2 separate regions of the Homo sapiens genome follow, and region 2 is linked to region 1. Evidence: fine-mapped QTL for protein levels in blood plasma. Region 1 holds a variant in brackets. A gene starts in the other region. All regions are shown on their forward strands.

Region 1 (8,454 bases):
ATATTGCCTAGTGACACTGTAGCTGCCTTCATGTCTTAGCAAAACTTGTTACATACATGTTTGCGGTGCTGCTGGTGTAAATAAACCTATTGTGTTGCCAGTCCTATAAAAGTGTAACATGTACTGTTATGTATAGTAACTAATAGTTGATAATAAATGACTATGTTACTGGCTTATGTATTTGCTATACTATAGTTTTGTTATTATTTTAGAATGTACTCCTTTCATAATAGGGAAAAAAATAAACAGTAAAACAGCCTCAGGCAGGTCCTTCAGAACGTATTTCAAAAAAATGACATTATTATCATAAAACATGATATCTTCATGCATGTTATTGTCCCTAAAGAACTTCCAATGGCACAATATATAAAAGTGGAAGACAGTGATATTGATGATTCTGACCCTGTGTAGGCCTAAGCTAATGCGTGTCTTTTTTAACAAAAACATTTAAAAAGTAGAAAATAAATAATTTTTAAAGTAGAAAAAAAATATAGAACAAGGTTATTAAGAAAGAATATTTTTGGGTCAAATGATATTTCTAGTTCTAGATCCCTAAGGAATCACCACACTGACTTCCACAATGGTCGAACTAGTTTACAGTCCCATCAACAGTATAAAAGTGTTCCTATTTCTCCACATCCTCTCCAGCACCTGTTTACCAAAGGATTTTAAATCACGCTGCTGTAAAGACACATGAACACGTATGTTTATTGCCACACTATTCACAATAGCAAAGACTTAGAACCAACCCAAATGTCCAACAATGATAGACTGGATTAAGAAAATGTGGCACATATACACCATGGAATACTATGCAGCCATAAAAAATGATGACTTCATGTCCTTTGTAGGGACATGGATGAAGCTGGAAACCATCATTCTCAGCAAACTATCACAAGGACAAAAAACCAAATACCGTATGTTCTCACTCATAGGTGGGAATTGAACAATGAGAACACATGGACAAAGGAAGGGGAACATCACACACCAGATCCTGTTATGGGGTGGGGGGGAGGGGGGAGGGATAGCATTAGGAGATATACCTAATGTTAAATGACGAGTTAATGGGTGCAGCACACCAATATGGCACATGTATACATATGTAACTAATCTGCATGTTGTGCACATGTACCCTAAAACTTAAAAGTATAATAAAAAAAAAAGATCCAAGTAAATGGAGGTATATATGTTCATACAGTCTGATGACTCAGTATTGCTAAGATACCAAATCTTCCCTAAATTGATCTAAATGTTAAACACATTCCCAATAAAAATCCCAGCGGAATTCTTTGTAGAAATTGAAAAGTTGATTCTAAAATTTATATGAAACGTTAAATGACCTATAATAGCCAGAACAATGTTTACAAGTAGAACAAGATTGGAGGATTTCACAGCTGATTTTCAAACTTATAAAGCTACAATATCAAGACAATCTACTTTTAGTGAAAAGATAAACATATAGATCAAAGGAATGAAATAGAGTCCAGAATTAAGCCCACACATTTATGGTCAACTGAGTTTTTACAAAGATGTCAAGATAATACAATAAAAAGAACAAGTCTTTTCAACAAATGGTACATTGGATTATCTTATTTGTTTTTCCTGTCATAAATGACAGGATTTTCCTTTTTTAAGGCTGTATAGTATACCATGAATATATACCACATTTTCTACCCCCTGGAAGTAACTATACATTTTATTATTTTTATTAGTTTAATTGACACATACCTATTTATGGGCTACAGTCTGATGTTTCAATACATATATACACTGAGTAATGATCAAATCATGGTAATTAGCATATCCATTACCTCAAACATTTATCATTTCTTTGAAGTTAGAACACTCAAAATCCTCTATTCTATAATAGTTATTTTGAAATATACGTTATTCTTAACTACACTCTACTGTTCAATAAAACACCAGAACTTATTCTTCCTATCTAATTGTAACTTTGTACCCATTGACCAACCTCTCCTCAACTTCTCCTCCTTACTACTGCCCTAACCATCTCTGGTAATCACTGTTATACTCTCTGCTTCTATGAGATCAGCTTTTTTACATTCCACGTGAATGAGATAATGCAGTATTTGTCTTTCTGTGCCTGGCTTATTTCACTAAACATAATGCCCTCCAGATTTATCCATATTGTCACAAATGACAGGATTTTATTCTTTCTAATGGCTGACAAGTATTCCACTGTATATATATATTTCACATTTTCTTTATCTATTCATCCACTATGGACATTTAAGTTGATTCATGGGAGTGCAGATAGGTCTTTGACATACTGATTTCATTTCCTTTGGATATATACCCAGTAGTAGGATTGCTGGATAGTTGTTTTAGTCTCAATTTTTTGAGTAACCTCCATATTGTTTACTATGATTGTACTAATTTAAATTCCTACCAACCGTGTGCAAGATTCCCTTTTCTCCACATCCTCTCCATCACTTGTTATCTCTCCTCTTTCAATAATAGCCATTCTTCCAGGTGTGAGGTGATATCTCATTGGGGTTTTAATTTGCATTTTTCTGATGATTCATGATGTTGAGCATTTTTTAGTATACCTGTTGGTCACTTGTGTGTCTTCTTTTGAGAAATGTCTATTCACATCCTTTGCCCATCCTTTAAATCTTGTTATTTGTTTTCTTACTATTGAGTTGTTTGAGCTCCTTATATATTAGGTATGTTAACTCCTTATCTGATGTATGGTTTGCAAATATTTTCTCCCATTTTGTGGATTGTCCCTTCAATCTTGTTTTCTTTGCTGTGCAGGAGCTTTTTAGTTTGATGCTATAGTTTGATCCATTAGCCTATTTTTGCTTTTATTGCCTGTGCTTTCAAGGTCATATAAAAAACATCATTACTCAAATCAGTGCTATTGATCTTTCCCACTGTATTTTCTTTTGTTAGTTTTACAATTTCAGTTCTATGTTTAAGTCTTTAATCCATTTTGAGGTGACTTTTGTATACAGTGTGAGATAAGGCTCTAATTTCATTTTTCTGCATCTGGATATCAGATTGTCCCAACACCATTTGTTGAAGAGACTGTCCTTTTTCCATTGTATATTCTTGATACTTTTGTTGCAAATCAGTGGACGGTAACTGTGTGGATTTATTTCTGGGCACTCTATTCTACTCCATTGGTCTACATGTATTTTATGCCAGTACCATGCTGTTTTGATTATTATAGCTTTGAAGTATATTTTGAAGCCAGGTAGTATGATGTCTTCAGCTTTATTTTTTTGTTTGTATGTTTTGTTGTATTTATTTACTTTGCTCAATATTGCTTTGGGTATTTGGGGTGTTTTGTGGTTCCATGCAAATTTTAGGAAAATTTTTTATATTTCTGTAAAAAATTCATGAAATTTTGATAGGAATTGTATTGAATTTGTATATTGCTTTGGGTAATATGGACATTTTAAACAGTATTAATTTTTCCAAGCTATGAACATAAAACATATTTGTTTAAAAAAAGAATATTTTTGTTGTACAACTGTATAATGTGTTTTGTTTTAAGGTAAACATTATTTAAAAAGAGCTAAAACATTAAAAAAAGAAGTTTAAAAATGTTACACTAAGCTAAAACTAATTTATCATTAAAGAAACTTTTTAAAAATTAATTTAGTATATCCTAAGTCTACAGTGTTTATAAAGTCTACAGTAGTATAGAGTAATGCCTAAACCTTCACATTCTTTCACTGACTCACCCAGAATAACTTCCAGTCCTGCAAGCTCCATTCATAGAAAGTGCCCTATACAGGTGTATCATTTTTGTCTTTTTGTCTTTTATACTGTATTTTTCCTGTACTTTTTATGTTTGGTTACAAAAATTCTCACCATTGCATTATAATTACCTAGAGTATTCAGTATAGTAACATGCTATATAGGTTTGTAGCCTGGGAGCAGTGGGCTATACCACGTAGTTTATATGTGTAGTAGGCTATGTCAAGTAGGTTTGTGTAAGTACATTCTATAATGTTTACACAACAACAAAATTACCTGACAACACATTTTGAGAACACATCCCATTTTTATTGTTGTTAAGCAATTCATGACTATATTAACAAAGCCAACATCATTTATACATTTAAGTGACACATGTATAAATGATTTGCTGTCATGTTTCTTAAACTATGTATCTGTGGGTTGGGTGACTGTGTGCTGTTGTTAATCAAGTCACACATTAAACATGCAACACCTTATAGATGGAGGGGACTAATTTTTTTATTAAAATAAGAAACCCAATATAATTCTATTTTTAGCATAAAATAAGAAATGTGGCCAGGCACAGTGACTCATGCCTGTAATCCCAGTACTTTGAGAGGCTGAGGCGGGTGGATTGCTTCAGCCCAGGAATTCAAGACCAGCCTGGGCAACATGGAAAACCCCCATCTCAACCAAAAAAATTACAAAAACTAGCCAGAAATGGTGACACGCACCTGTAGTCCCAGCTAGTTGTGGGGCTGAGGTGGGGGGGTCACTTGGGCCTA[G/T]ATAGGTTGACCCTGCAGTGAGCCATGACTATGCCACTGCACTCCAGCCTGGGTGACAGAGTGAGACCCTGCCTCAAAAAAACAAAAAAGAAAAAAAGAAATGCTCTTGCAGAAGTTTTAGATCATACTCTAATCCCTAGTTTATATAATCATATTTTCAGCTGGGCTTGATACTTTGGAAGGAAGGTTTAATAAGCAATAAAATACTGTGTTAAAGATCACAAAGGCATTTGTGTTCACCAGACATCTACATTTCCCAGAATATAAGATAGTGTCTGGCTTGGTCTCTAATCTTCTCTTCAAACTGTAATTTCTATATATTATCATATCTATTCTTTTCCATTTCTTCTCTCCTCCACTTTGAGGGAAGGGGTAATGAGAATAAAGTGGCCAAAGGTAACCTAAGGAGAAAAAGTAGAGGCAATCATGGCCAAAGCTTTATGATATATATAGTGTTTGTATAAGACATGATTTTACTTGAGATAAAAATTCTTAATTATATTCAGTGATCTGTTATCAGTAGCATGTGTGCTGCATAGTAAGCTTCAAGCGCAACCTTCAATACTGCTTTGTGTGATGCTGGGGCTGGACATCTATAAACCATATTTCTGCTTTACCCAGCTGTCTCCCTGTTGTACATTGAGAATAGGTGCTGCTAGAGGGAGTTTGGAGGACTGGGGGAGGACAAAAGCTACTCTGTTCCCTGTCTGCTTCCTATTCTTGTCCCAGCGGCCATTGCAAGAAACTTTTTTCCCACCAGTGACACTTCTCCTGTGAGCACAGTTAACTCTAATTCATAGTTTTCCAGCATTCATATTGTTTTGATTTAAATCATTGAATCAGGCATTATTTTTTTAAATTATTTACTAAGTGCCTTGGTTGTTATCACAAACAATACCAGCATATTTTTACTTGTTTTTTCTCTCTCTAATTTGAGCTCTGTCAGAAATCTCGAGTGCAATCATACCATCTCTCAGCTATTCCCCAAGTATTCTAAATGGGTTGAGTACTCTTTTGTCTTTACTAAAGAGTATCCAATGATTAAAATAAAATTTGTCTCAACACCACAAGCCATGAGACCAGGAGATATGTCAAATCCTGTTTAAACATGTCCATATAGATATCATTGGATGACGTAATTGATTTGGACTTGCAATTTAAAAAAAAATCCTTTGAAAGCTTCTATGGGATTAGAATAATTTTTTTCATTTTTCTCCACAGATGCAGCATAAAATATACCAGAAACCTAAACCACCGAATCTTTCACATCTGTTTTTCCTACTTTAAACATCAAAGACTTCAATTTTTTTTTTCTTTTTCGTTTCTGTTCTCTGTATAATACTGTAAAGAGCAGTGTGTAAATGTCATTGACTAAGGTTGATAAAGTAAGCACTGATAATAAACTTTTCTGTATTCTCAGAATTCATATTTTAATTTTTCATACAACTAATGAAACAACAACTAATGGAACAACATTTTATAAGAAATAAATATCTACAAGATAAATTTTTAAATATTTTAAAAAATATTAATTTCGAAGATTTTAAATCTAGCAGAAAGGTAGAAAAATAATAAGTTTCATATACCCATTGTGATGGTTAATTTTATGTGTGAACTTGGCTGGGCCACAGTGTCTAGATATGTGGTCAAACATTATTCTGGATGTTTCTGTAAGCAAGTTTTTGGATGAGATTAATGCTTAAATCCATGAACTTTGAGTAAAGCAGATTGTCCTCCATGATGTGGGTGGGCCTCATACAATCATTTGAAAACTTGAAATGAACAAAAGACTGAGCTTTCCCCAGCAAATGGCCTTCAGACTTCACCTGAACACTGGCCCTTCTCTGGTCCACCCCGCGTATTTTGGACTGGCTGGTAAAGTCTCCATAATCATTTTAGGCAATTCTTTAAAACAAAATTATCTTAATATAAATCTCTCTCTCTCTCAGTCTATATATATATATACACACACACACACATAAATATGTGTATATATATGTACATATATATACACACACATAGATATGTGTATATATACACACACGTATGTGTGCATATGTGTATATATGTATATATAGGTGTATATATACGTATATATGTATATATAGGTGTATATATACGTATATATGTATATATACACACATACATTCGTTTGGTTCTGTTTCTCTGGAGAACCCTGAGTAATACATTCATCATCACAATTAACAACTGGCAATTACTATATTATTTAATCTATTTTTGTGTTATAATTTGGAGTAAATATAGACATCATGATATTTAAGCCCTAAATACAACACCACATCACTATTTGTAATCCTTAAAGATAATGTTTTCCTGTATAAGAAAACACCATTATTGCACTTAACAAACTTAATTTTTTGTACCATTTAATACTCATTTCATCTTGAAATTCTCTCAAAATTCAAAAGAAGTCTTGAAGCCAATTAGAACAAACATTGTGCTGGAGTGTGATGCAACATAATACTTTATAGGTGATGCTATGTACCTCATACTGCATCACAATAAGACATACATCACATCTGCAATATTAGTGATGCTAACATTGGATTCTCAGTTGATGGGGTGACAGCTTTATCCCTTCTCTATAAAAGTATATCTTTTTCCCTTGGTGACCAACAAGTAATATTTGTGATGATATTTTTACATCTCATGAATATCTGTAGCAATCTTTCACCTAATAGTATTTATCACTTGTTAATGATTATTGCCACAATCAAATATTTTATTAGAAGTTGCAAACAAAGTTAGCAAAATATATAATAATAATTTATTATAGAATTACAAAAGGGCCAGTTTTACTCCCCATATCTTCCTAATTTGTTCAACTCTAAACACACTGGCATGAAATTTTAAGATGTCATAGCTAGGGAATTACTCTAGGATAAAACAGAACCTCCTTTAAGATTTAGTTTGTGTAGTATGAAGAAAGTCTAGTAATAAGAATATTGATGTTCAGAATTCCCAACCCCCATATCACATTTTTTTAAATTACTAAGATACATTATATGAAATTTTCTGATTTAACGAGGAACGGATAATGGATAAATTATGCTTGGCAGTGCAAACCAAAGATCTAATAGCTTGAATTATTTTTACAAAGACCTCATCAAATGACATTTAATGTATGTAACCAGCTAACTTAACACTGTTTTTACTTATTGTCATGCATTTTTGCAGAATTTTGTAAAGTTTTAACCTTTTCTTTTCCCATGTGTTTCTCATATTCACTTATAATCAGAGGCTCTAAAACTCTGAGTTTTACTTCTTTGGTGTTAGATTTTCTTCACCTTTTTCCTACCACTGCATATCTTCTGCATATGTAAATTTACTTTCAACGTTACTATGTCTGTGAAGAAGGAACACCCATTGAGCAAGAATGGAAAATATATTAAACATAAGGGATATAGGGAATTTAGAAATTAACATTCTGATAGAGACAGAAGATGCTGGAGCAATACTGGAAAAAAGCCAGTTCTGTCAAAGTTTTTGGTCTGCACTAGTAGATGGTAGAGGTTTAACTAAGATCCCAATAGACGTTTGAACTCAGGATACTTATTCAAACTCAATGTGAACCCTTTGAGGCTGACTCATTGCTAATATTTTTCCATTTCAGGGTAAGATTTCCCACTGACACTAACCAACACAACCTCAATGTGGGTAAGTGGAATAGGAAGTTCCAGATCACTGAACTCTTGTAAAATGACTTATTTATTGTTTTTACTTAATTCCTCAGACATGCTTTGTGGGTTTTTTATTATTATTATTAGATTTTTTAAGTTCTATTTTCCATCCAGTGGCCCTGATCTTCTTAGAAAAATCCTGAACAACAGGGACAGCTGTTAAAAGAATGAGCTCACTAATTATTCTCATATTGGAAAAATAAATAGTGTAAAAAAAGTAAAAAGTAACTTACCTTATTGTTTATTTCTTAAGGGAT
Region 2 (8,454 bases), not on the chromosome of region 1:
CAAGACAACAAAATAGGAAACAGTTTCCAAGTACTTTAACTACATCCCAGAAGAGAGCTCAAGGATATTTATAGAAATACAACATATACCAACACCCAATAAGGTAAAATTCATAATATTAGGCAACCACATCAAAATTACTAGGGATGCAAAGAACAGTAGAATATAACTCATAATGAGAAAAGTCTAAATGACAGAAATGACATCAAAAACAGAATTAGCAGACAAAAATATTAAAAATGTAAAGTATTTTCCATATGTCCAAAAAACTAGAGAAAAGTTGTATTACATTTTAATATAACCATTGTGATTCATTTTCTGAGATGAAAATTAATCTTTGAAGCTTCCTAAATGGACTTTAAAATATTACCAAAATATTCATAATAAACACCATTATTCTGGAGACTTACCCTGTTTCTGAGATTTACTCTGTTTTTAAGCCTTGGGAAATGAGGAATGAGGAATGAAGTGATGCTTACAGATGAATTATCATAGAATTCAAGGACTGGATAGAAATAGATAAGGGTCAAGAAGAGGAGAAGAGATAGACTAGGTTGGCAGCAGTGTGGTGGCAGCACTTGAGGGTGTGGTATATTTCGAGGGTGTCAAAGGCACATTGTGCTTGGTAATAAAAACTGTTTACATTTTATCAGTGTCCTACTGATGAATACTTTCACATTTCTGATGTTGAAATAGCTTTCTTATGCCCTAATAAGCAATATATAATATTTTTTACTCACATATTGACTGGGTAATTCCTTGCAATAATTCCAAGTCTACACAGAGACCTGTGGTCCATCACATGGAACAATTGGGATAGTTGTACTGCAGCATTGGAACTTCTATTATGGGCCATGATGTCCTTATATTCTTTTGTTTTTGAAGTAATTTTAACACCTGGTTGTTCCAACTAAGAGAGGACATAGCATCCCAAATAGAGGCTTAAAGAGAAAACAGTGGATTTGACATGGGCCCATACTTTCTGTTATTGTCGGTTTGAGGAAGAAGAAAAGTAGAGGTGAAGAAGTTGCCTTCAGCAACTGGTAGCTACTGGTAGTTGAATCTCAGGCTGTGGTTCTACTTGGCACCTGACACTTGGAGAAGTGAAGACAGGGAGAGAAAGGTAATGGGAAGACTGGGCCCCCGGAATTGATACATAACACCAAGAAAGCAGTCAGTGAGGATTTCAGAAAGCCAGGAAAGATGGTCTATTATGAAGAGAACTTGCTGGAAACACTTGAACACTTCCCTGTTTCTGGTGAGATTTGATATCCAGAAACACATGTCTATTGAATTCAAGTTTCTCCTAATGCACATTGTAGCAATCAGAAAGAATTATAGTACTGCTATATTTCTATAAAAGATAGCAGAATCTACCTTTGACACTAATGCATGAAAATATATTTGTGTTTTAAAAAGGCAGCCTGCCAAATTTAATTCCTAAAATGAGTTAATTGCTATAGATGGTAAACAAAAAAGGATGGCTGGTTGTAGAAGGCCTTTATTGAGAATAGATGAGTTGTATTGTAGTACAATTCTTAGATCATGTCCACATAGAAAAAAATAAATTGATGATATAATTAACCCATTTTAACCTATATTATAATTCAATTTAATTAATTTATACTGATAAGATTTTTTTGAAAATCCTAGTCTAAGTAATTTTCTTCACTTTTCATATTGTCTGTTCCTTTTTATTTTTTGTAAGGATGTTTACTTTGCATTTTTTTTCTTGTATTAGGTAGAGATATCAGTTGAAAGATACCTTAAAATTTTGTGACACTGAATTTAATCAGCCAACCATTCCTAAGGAATTGATAGCATATTTACTATTTGGTTAGATGGATAGGCACTCTGGCATTAAATTAAGTCTCTAAAGTTGGCATTTTTTCTCCATTAGTTTGCCATCCTGCCCACTTACCTCTTGAATTTGAAAGATGTAAACAAAAGATTTCTAAAGATTAGAAAATTAATTTTTAAGATAATTAAGCTGTTTTGAAAATTAGAGTTTATTACAAAATATGTTATCATTTTATGTATTATTAATTTAACAATAAGTTTTATGACAGAAGATTTAAGTCAAAATAGTTGTACAATCAACAAGCAAATGATAATCATTTCCTTAAATGATTATCTGACTGATAAATGGACAATCAGTCAGACCATCAAACACCAGTTGATAACATAATCCATTTGGACAGGAACCACATTTCCAAAGGAGTTTTGATTTAGTCATTGGTGGTAAAACAAAAGATATCAGACTGTACCTTAAAAACAAAGAAACAAAACAAAACAAAAACTTGTCCAATTCAGTATACCTAATAGAGATAGGAATCAAATAGTAGTATATGTCATTAAACTTTTCCAACAAGATTCTGTGGTCACTTGAAGTAGAAAAACTTGGTTTTCCAATATAACTACTCAAATCAGTAAAAATAAATATTTTAAAGTTTTACTCTTATTTTAAAATTACTTGATTAGTTATCTGTATTTACATTAATATTTTTCAATCTTTGTTGATCCCTAATTATATTTCATATAATTTTATTAAGCTGTAGGCCACAAATTAACATTTCAAACTCAGCCAAATTTCAGGGACTATCCCTCTTTAGTTTAAGGATTAGATGAGATATGGACACTGTATATTGAAATAATCATGCACTAGAATGATAGATTTAAAATAATCTTTAAAATGTGTTAGGGAGATTTTGCCTCCCTAACACATTTTATTCAAAAGTTTTGCAGTATCTCTCAAAATTGTCACAACTTTCCCCCTTTCATGTAAATATTATGCTTTTACACATGAAATATGACTCTCTGGGCAGTATGTTTCCTGCTTGAGTTTTGCCCTTTGTGTTTATATTATCTCATGTTATACAAAGTCATTTTGTGACTAATTTCCAGAGCACTGAGTCACAGTGTGGCTGTTGCTTATCTTTTCTTTTTTCCCACATGGTAGTACTCTTGGCCCTTATTTTTGGTAATTATTTTATACTAATGAGTGCTTTTTCATAATTAAATAATTGTTTCTCTCATTATATTTCTGTGGTTGTTTACTGCTGTATTATATGCTTTCATTTTTCACTAGAAGCAAACATTTTATAACAGGAACATAACAGTACATCATGTAGGCATGTTATCTATTGTTTTAATTTACAAAATTGCACAACATAGACTTGATCGTAAGTATTCTCGTTTAAGTATCTCAGAATATGACCTTTGGTCTTTGGAGAATTGTAAAATATTTCCTTAGAGAGATTAGTTAATGCTGGCATAAAATATTCCATTTAGATTACGATTATTTTAATGGTTATACCTCATTTTAAATATCATCAACTAATAGTATTGAAAGATTATTTGAATAGAAGAATAACAGTCTCTATTTTATATGTTATGAAATAAAATGGAAAGGTAAACCGAACTTTCAAGAACTTCCAATTAACCAAGCACAATTAGTAAAGAATTCTACTACAATCTTCAAATTATAAAAAAGCTACATACACCAATTAGTTACAAAAATGTTTATGGTTTAAAATCATAAAAATTGCACATAAATTTGCTTAAGAACTAAATGCAAAATGCTGAGAACTCAAGTTTGGATTGCAGTTTGAGTTTACTCTGTTTACAGGGAAGGGCTGATTTTCATTTTACGCAAATAAACAGTGATCCTCCCCTATCAGTTCTTTGCCTCTCAGCACCCTGCTTTTCCCCCGAGAAAAAGAAATTAAAGTTATTTCTTATGGGCTAGACAGTATATTGCCAGGTACTCACAAGTAAAATCTCTGATGAAAGTTCTTGGAATGTTTTTTTCAAAACGGAGTTGAGGTTATTTTGTTTTTCCTTCCAGGTATTGAAGACAGGATTTATCTTCTCTACTTCTTCTTTTAGAAGCAGATCAAGAAACTGGCGATTGAAGAGTAACTGAAAGAAACGCAATCTGATCTTACTAGCAGTGAAAGAGCGAGGTAAGAATTTGACTATTATCCAGCCTAAAGTCGCTGCTGTCTGTTAGAGCAAAGAGGGAGCCTCAGAGTCGGCTTCAGAGATCACTGGCAGTTGGGAATAGCCCAACTTCCTGTTTAGGTCACTGCAACTCTGACTCTATTTAGTCTAAACCTCTTTTTTCTTTCTTTCTTTCTTTTTTTTAGTGGAGGAAACAGATGAAGGAAACAGCTTACACCAAGATTTCAGATACGATCATTTTGAATAGCTATTTCCTTTACTTTCCAGGATTGTTTTTGTAATCAGTTGAAAAAGAATGCTTTTTTCCCCCTAGAGTTAGGGTTTAAAAAATTACATATTTATTATTACACTGTTAATAAGCTTTTTTGCAGTTTGTTTCTTCTTCAAGTTATTTCATTTGTTTCACCCACTGTCAATGTATTTATTTTTTTTAAAAGTCTGAGGGCTACCGTTGGAGGTCTCTCTTAGTGAGACAATGTAATGCATTATCTATTGCAGGTGTCAGGCTTTGAGCCCTACCTTAGCTACTTGCTAACTTGGCTACTCAGCCCAGTTATTTGAATTCACTATGCCTCAGTTCCTTTGTTCCTAAAATGTCGATAATAAAAGTTTCTGGGCTTGATGTAAGTACTAAATGGCTTAATACATAAAAAGTACTTAAGGCAGGACCCAGCATGTAGCAAACCTCCAATAATTGTTGGCTATCATTATCGCTGTTTTCTGTATTTCTATTATTATTATTCTACAAAATATGTAAATATTTACAGATGTCAACCAGAGTCTCTGCTGTATGTCCCTATCATTGAGGTTCATCCGTACTGTCTCTGTATTGGAATTATGGTCATATCAGACTAAGATCACTAGAGATCTAATAAATGGGCAGAATCTACTTTGCCAGGAAGGCTGAAGACATTTGGTCAGAAAATGTAGGAGTTTCTTGCTTCTGCATCTCAGATTCTTTGTGCCTTCAATTTTTCTTGCTTTCCTTAGACCTCTCTGTAAAAGGTAACCTTTCATCTTGAGTGTTTTTAATACATATTGAATAATTATTTGGTGGTGACTGGAACATAAATTATCGATTTAATTCTCACAACTAGCTTATAAAGAAGGTCCTCTTTGTATGCCCATTTCACATGTCTAGGAAGATCGAGTTCAGTATGTGGAGCTGTGATTCTAATGTCATGCAGTCTGCCTTTAGAGCAAAAATGCATAAATCCTCCTCCATGCTGCCTTCTCACTCATGTTCTGGATTTCATATCATGTTAATAACTTATCTCCTATTACCTCATGCCCTGCCCCTCAACCACAATCAAAGCTATCATCTCACTCAGATTGTAGAGGAAAGTCCTTTTTTCTTGGTACCACCATGGACCTTGATTAAACTTTTGAGGAATCTGTAGCTCAGGTAGAGGCAAGCTCAGCCAATCAGATTTTCTTTCTTGAAAGTTTCGCCTCTCCTCCCTCTCCCTCTCCCTCTCCCTCTCCCTCTCCGTCTCCCTCTCCCTCTCCCTCTCACGGTCTCCCTCTCCCTCTCTTTCCACAGTCTCCCTCTGATGCCGAGCAGAAGCTAGACTGTACTGCTGCCATCTCAGCTCACTGCAACCTCCCTGCCTGATTCTCCTGCCTCAGCCTGCTGAGTGCCTGCAATTGCAGGCGCGCCGCCACGCCTGACTGGTTTTCGTATTTTTTTGGTGGAGACGGGGATTCGCTGTGTTGGCCGGGCTGGTCTCCAGCTCCTAACCGCGAGTGATCCACCAGCCTCGGCCTCCTGAGGTGCCGGGATTGCAGACGGAGTCTGGTTCACTCAGTGCTCAATGGCGCCCAGACTGGAGTGCAGTGGCGTGATCTCAGCTCGCTACAACCTCCACCTCCCAGCCGCCTCCCTTGGCCTCCCAAAGTGCAGAGATTGCAGCCTCTGCCCGGCCGCCACCCCGCCTGGGAAGTGAGGAGCGTCTCTGCCTGGCCGCCCATTGTCTGGGATGTGAGGAGCCCCTCTGCCTGGCTGCCCAGTCTGGAAAGTGAGGAGTGTCTCTGCCTGGCCGCCATCCCATCTAGGAAGTGAGGAGCGCCTCTTCCCGGCCGCCATCCCATCTAGGAAGTGAGGAGCCTCTCTGCCCAGCCGCCCATCGTCTGAGATGTGGGGAGCGCCTCTGCCCCGCCGCCCCGTCTGGGATGTGAGGAGCGCCTCTACCCCGCCGCGACCCCGTCTGGGAGGTGAGGAGCGTCTCTGCCCGGCGGCCCCGTCTGGGAAGTGAGGAGACCCTCCGCCCGGCAGCCGCCCCATCTGAGAAGTGAGGAGCCCCTCTGCCCAGCAGCCACCCTGTCTGGGAAGTGAGGAGCGTCTCTGCCCAGCAGCCACCCCGTCTGGGAGGGAGGTGGGGGGTCAGCCCCCCGCCCGGCCAGCCGCCCCGTCCGGGAGGTGAGGGGCGCCTCTGCCCGGCGGCCCCTACTGGGAAGTGAGGAGCCCCTCTGCCCGGCCAGCCGCCCCGTCTGGGAAGTGAGGAGCGTCTCCGCCCAGCAGCCACCCCGTCCGGGAGGGAGGTGGGGGGATCAGCCCCCCGCCCGGCCAGCCGCCCAGTCCGGGAGGGAGGTGGGGGGGTCAGCCCCCCGCCCGGCCAGCCGCCCCGTCCGGGAGGTGAGGGGTGCCTCTGCCCGGCCGCCCCTACTGGGAAGTGAGGAGCCCCTCTGCCCGGCCAGCCGCCCGGTCCGGGAGGGAGGTGGGGGGGTCAGCCCCCTGCCTGGCAAGCCGCCCCGTCTGGGAGGGAGGTGGGGGGATCAGCCCCCCGCCGGGCCAGCCACCCCGTCCGGGAGGTGAGGGGTGCCTCTGCCCGGCCGCCCCTACTGGGAAGTGAGGAGCCCCTCTGCCCGGCCAGCCGCCCCATCCGGGAGTGAGGTGGGGGGGTCAGCCCCCTGCCCGGCCAGCCGCCCCGTCCGGGAGGTGAGGGGCGCCTCTGCCCGGCCGCCCCTACTGGGAAGTGAGGAGCCCCTCTGCCCGGCCACCACCCCGTCTGGGAGGTGTACCCAACAGCTCATTGAGAACGGGCCATGATGACAATGGCGGTTTTGTGGAATAGAAAGCGGGGAAAGGTGGGGAAAAGATTGAGAAATCGGATGGTTGCCGTGTCTGTGTAGAAAGAGGTAGACATGGGAGACTTTTCATTTTGTTCTGTACTAAGAAAAATTCTTATCCTGTTGATCTGTGACCTTACCCCCAACCCCGTGCTCTCTGAAACATGTGCTGTGTCCACTCAGGGCTAAATGGATTAAGGGCGGTGCAAGATGTGCTTTGTTAAACAGATGCTTGAAGGCAGCATGCTCGTTGAGAGTCATCACCACTCCCTAATCTCAAGTAACCAGGGACACAAACACTGTGGAAGGCCGCAGGGTCCTCTGCCTAGGAAAACCAGAGACCTTTGTTCACTTGTTTATCTGCTGACCTTCCCTCCACTATTGTCCTATGACCCTGCCAAATCCCCCTCTGCGAGAAACACCCAAGAATGATCAATAAAAAAATAAAATAAAATAAAATAAAATAAAATAAATAAAGTTTCATGCGCATCCGTGTGAAGAGACCACCAAACAGGCTTTGTGTGAGCAGCATGGCTGTTTATTTCACCTGGGTGCAGGCGGGCTGAGTCCGAAAAGAGAGTCAGCCAAGGGAGATAAGGGTGGGGCTGTTTTATAGGATTTGGGTAGGTAAAGGAAAATTACAGTCAAAGGGGGTTTGTTCTCTGGCGGGCAGGAGTGGGGGCCGCAAGGTGCTCAGTGGGGGTGCTTTGAGCCAGGATGAGCCAGGAAAAGGAGTTTCACAAGGTAATGTCATCAGTTAAGGCAAGGACCGGCCATTTACACTTCTTTTGTGGTGGAATGTCATCATTAAGGTGGTGCAGGGCATATTCACTTCTTTTGTGATTCTTCAGTTACTTCAGGCCATCTGGGCATATACGTGCAGGTCACAGGGGATGCATGGCTTGGCTTGGGCTCAGAGGCCTGACACTCCTGCCTTCTTATATTAATAAGAAAAATAAAACAAAATAGTGTTGAAGTGTTGGGGCAGTGAAAATTTTTGGGGGGTGATATGGCGAGAGAATGGGTGATGTTTATCAGGGCTGCTTCAAGCGGGATTAGGGGCGGCGTGGGAACCTAGAGTGGGAGAGATTAAGCTGAAGGGAGGTCTTGTGGTAAGGGGTGATATTGTGGGGATGTTAGAAGAAACATTTGTCGTATAGAATGATTGGTGATGGCCTGGATACGGTTTTGGATGAATTGAGAAACTAAATGGAAGATACAAGGTCTGAATAAAAGAAGGAGAAAAATGGGTATTAAAGGACTAAGAATTGGGAGGACCCAGGACATCCAATTAGAGAGTGCCCAAGGGGGTTCAGCGTAATTACTTGCTTGGTTGGCAAGTTTTGGGGCTCTATCCTTGAGTTTTTTTATGTTGTCATACACCAGGCCAGATTGATTTAGGTAAAAACAACACTCCTCATT

Direction of the effects. Alleles are on the strand shown, and positions count from the first base shown. The strength of an association depends on the size of the effect and on how common the allele is.
As copies of G replace T in region 1, the plasma level of the protein whose gene starts at base 4,007 in region 2 goes up (weak association).

The links. PIP is the chance, under the fine-mapping model, that this variant and not a neighbour inherited with it causes the effect. The UK Biobank Pharma Proteomics Project read protein levels with antibody pairs (Olink). The fine-mapping took linkage between variants from a reference panel, not from the people measured, so its PIPs are less certain.
Region 2: TFPI starts here. The variant in region 1 is fine-mapped to the plasma level of the TFPI protein (UK Biobank, PIP 0.97).

What each region holds. Positions count from the first base shown.
Region 1 is chr3:90,124,267-90,132,720 of GRCh38, forward strand. No RefSeq gene overlaps it. Among named protein-coding and RNA genes, the nearest start is that of EPHA3, 1.0 Mb to the left of the region's middle. The variant G/T (reference allele first, on the strand shown) is at 4,497.
Region 2 is chr2:187,550,429-187,558,882 of GRCh38, forward strand. It overlaps TFPI (tissue factor pathway inhibitor), which reads right to left and starts at 4,007. Exons shown (of 8, transcript NM_006287.6): 1 at 3,772-4,007. RefSeq lists enhancers at 7,049-7,633, 7,634-8,216.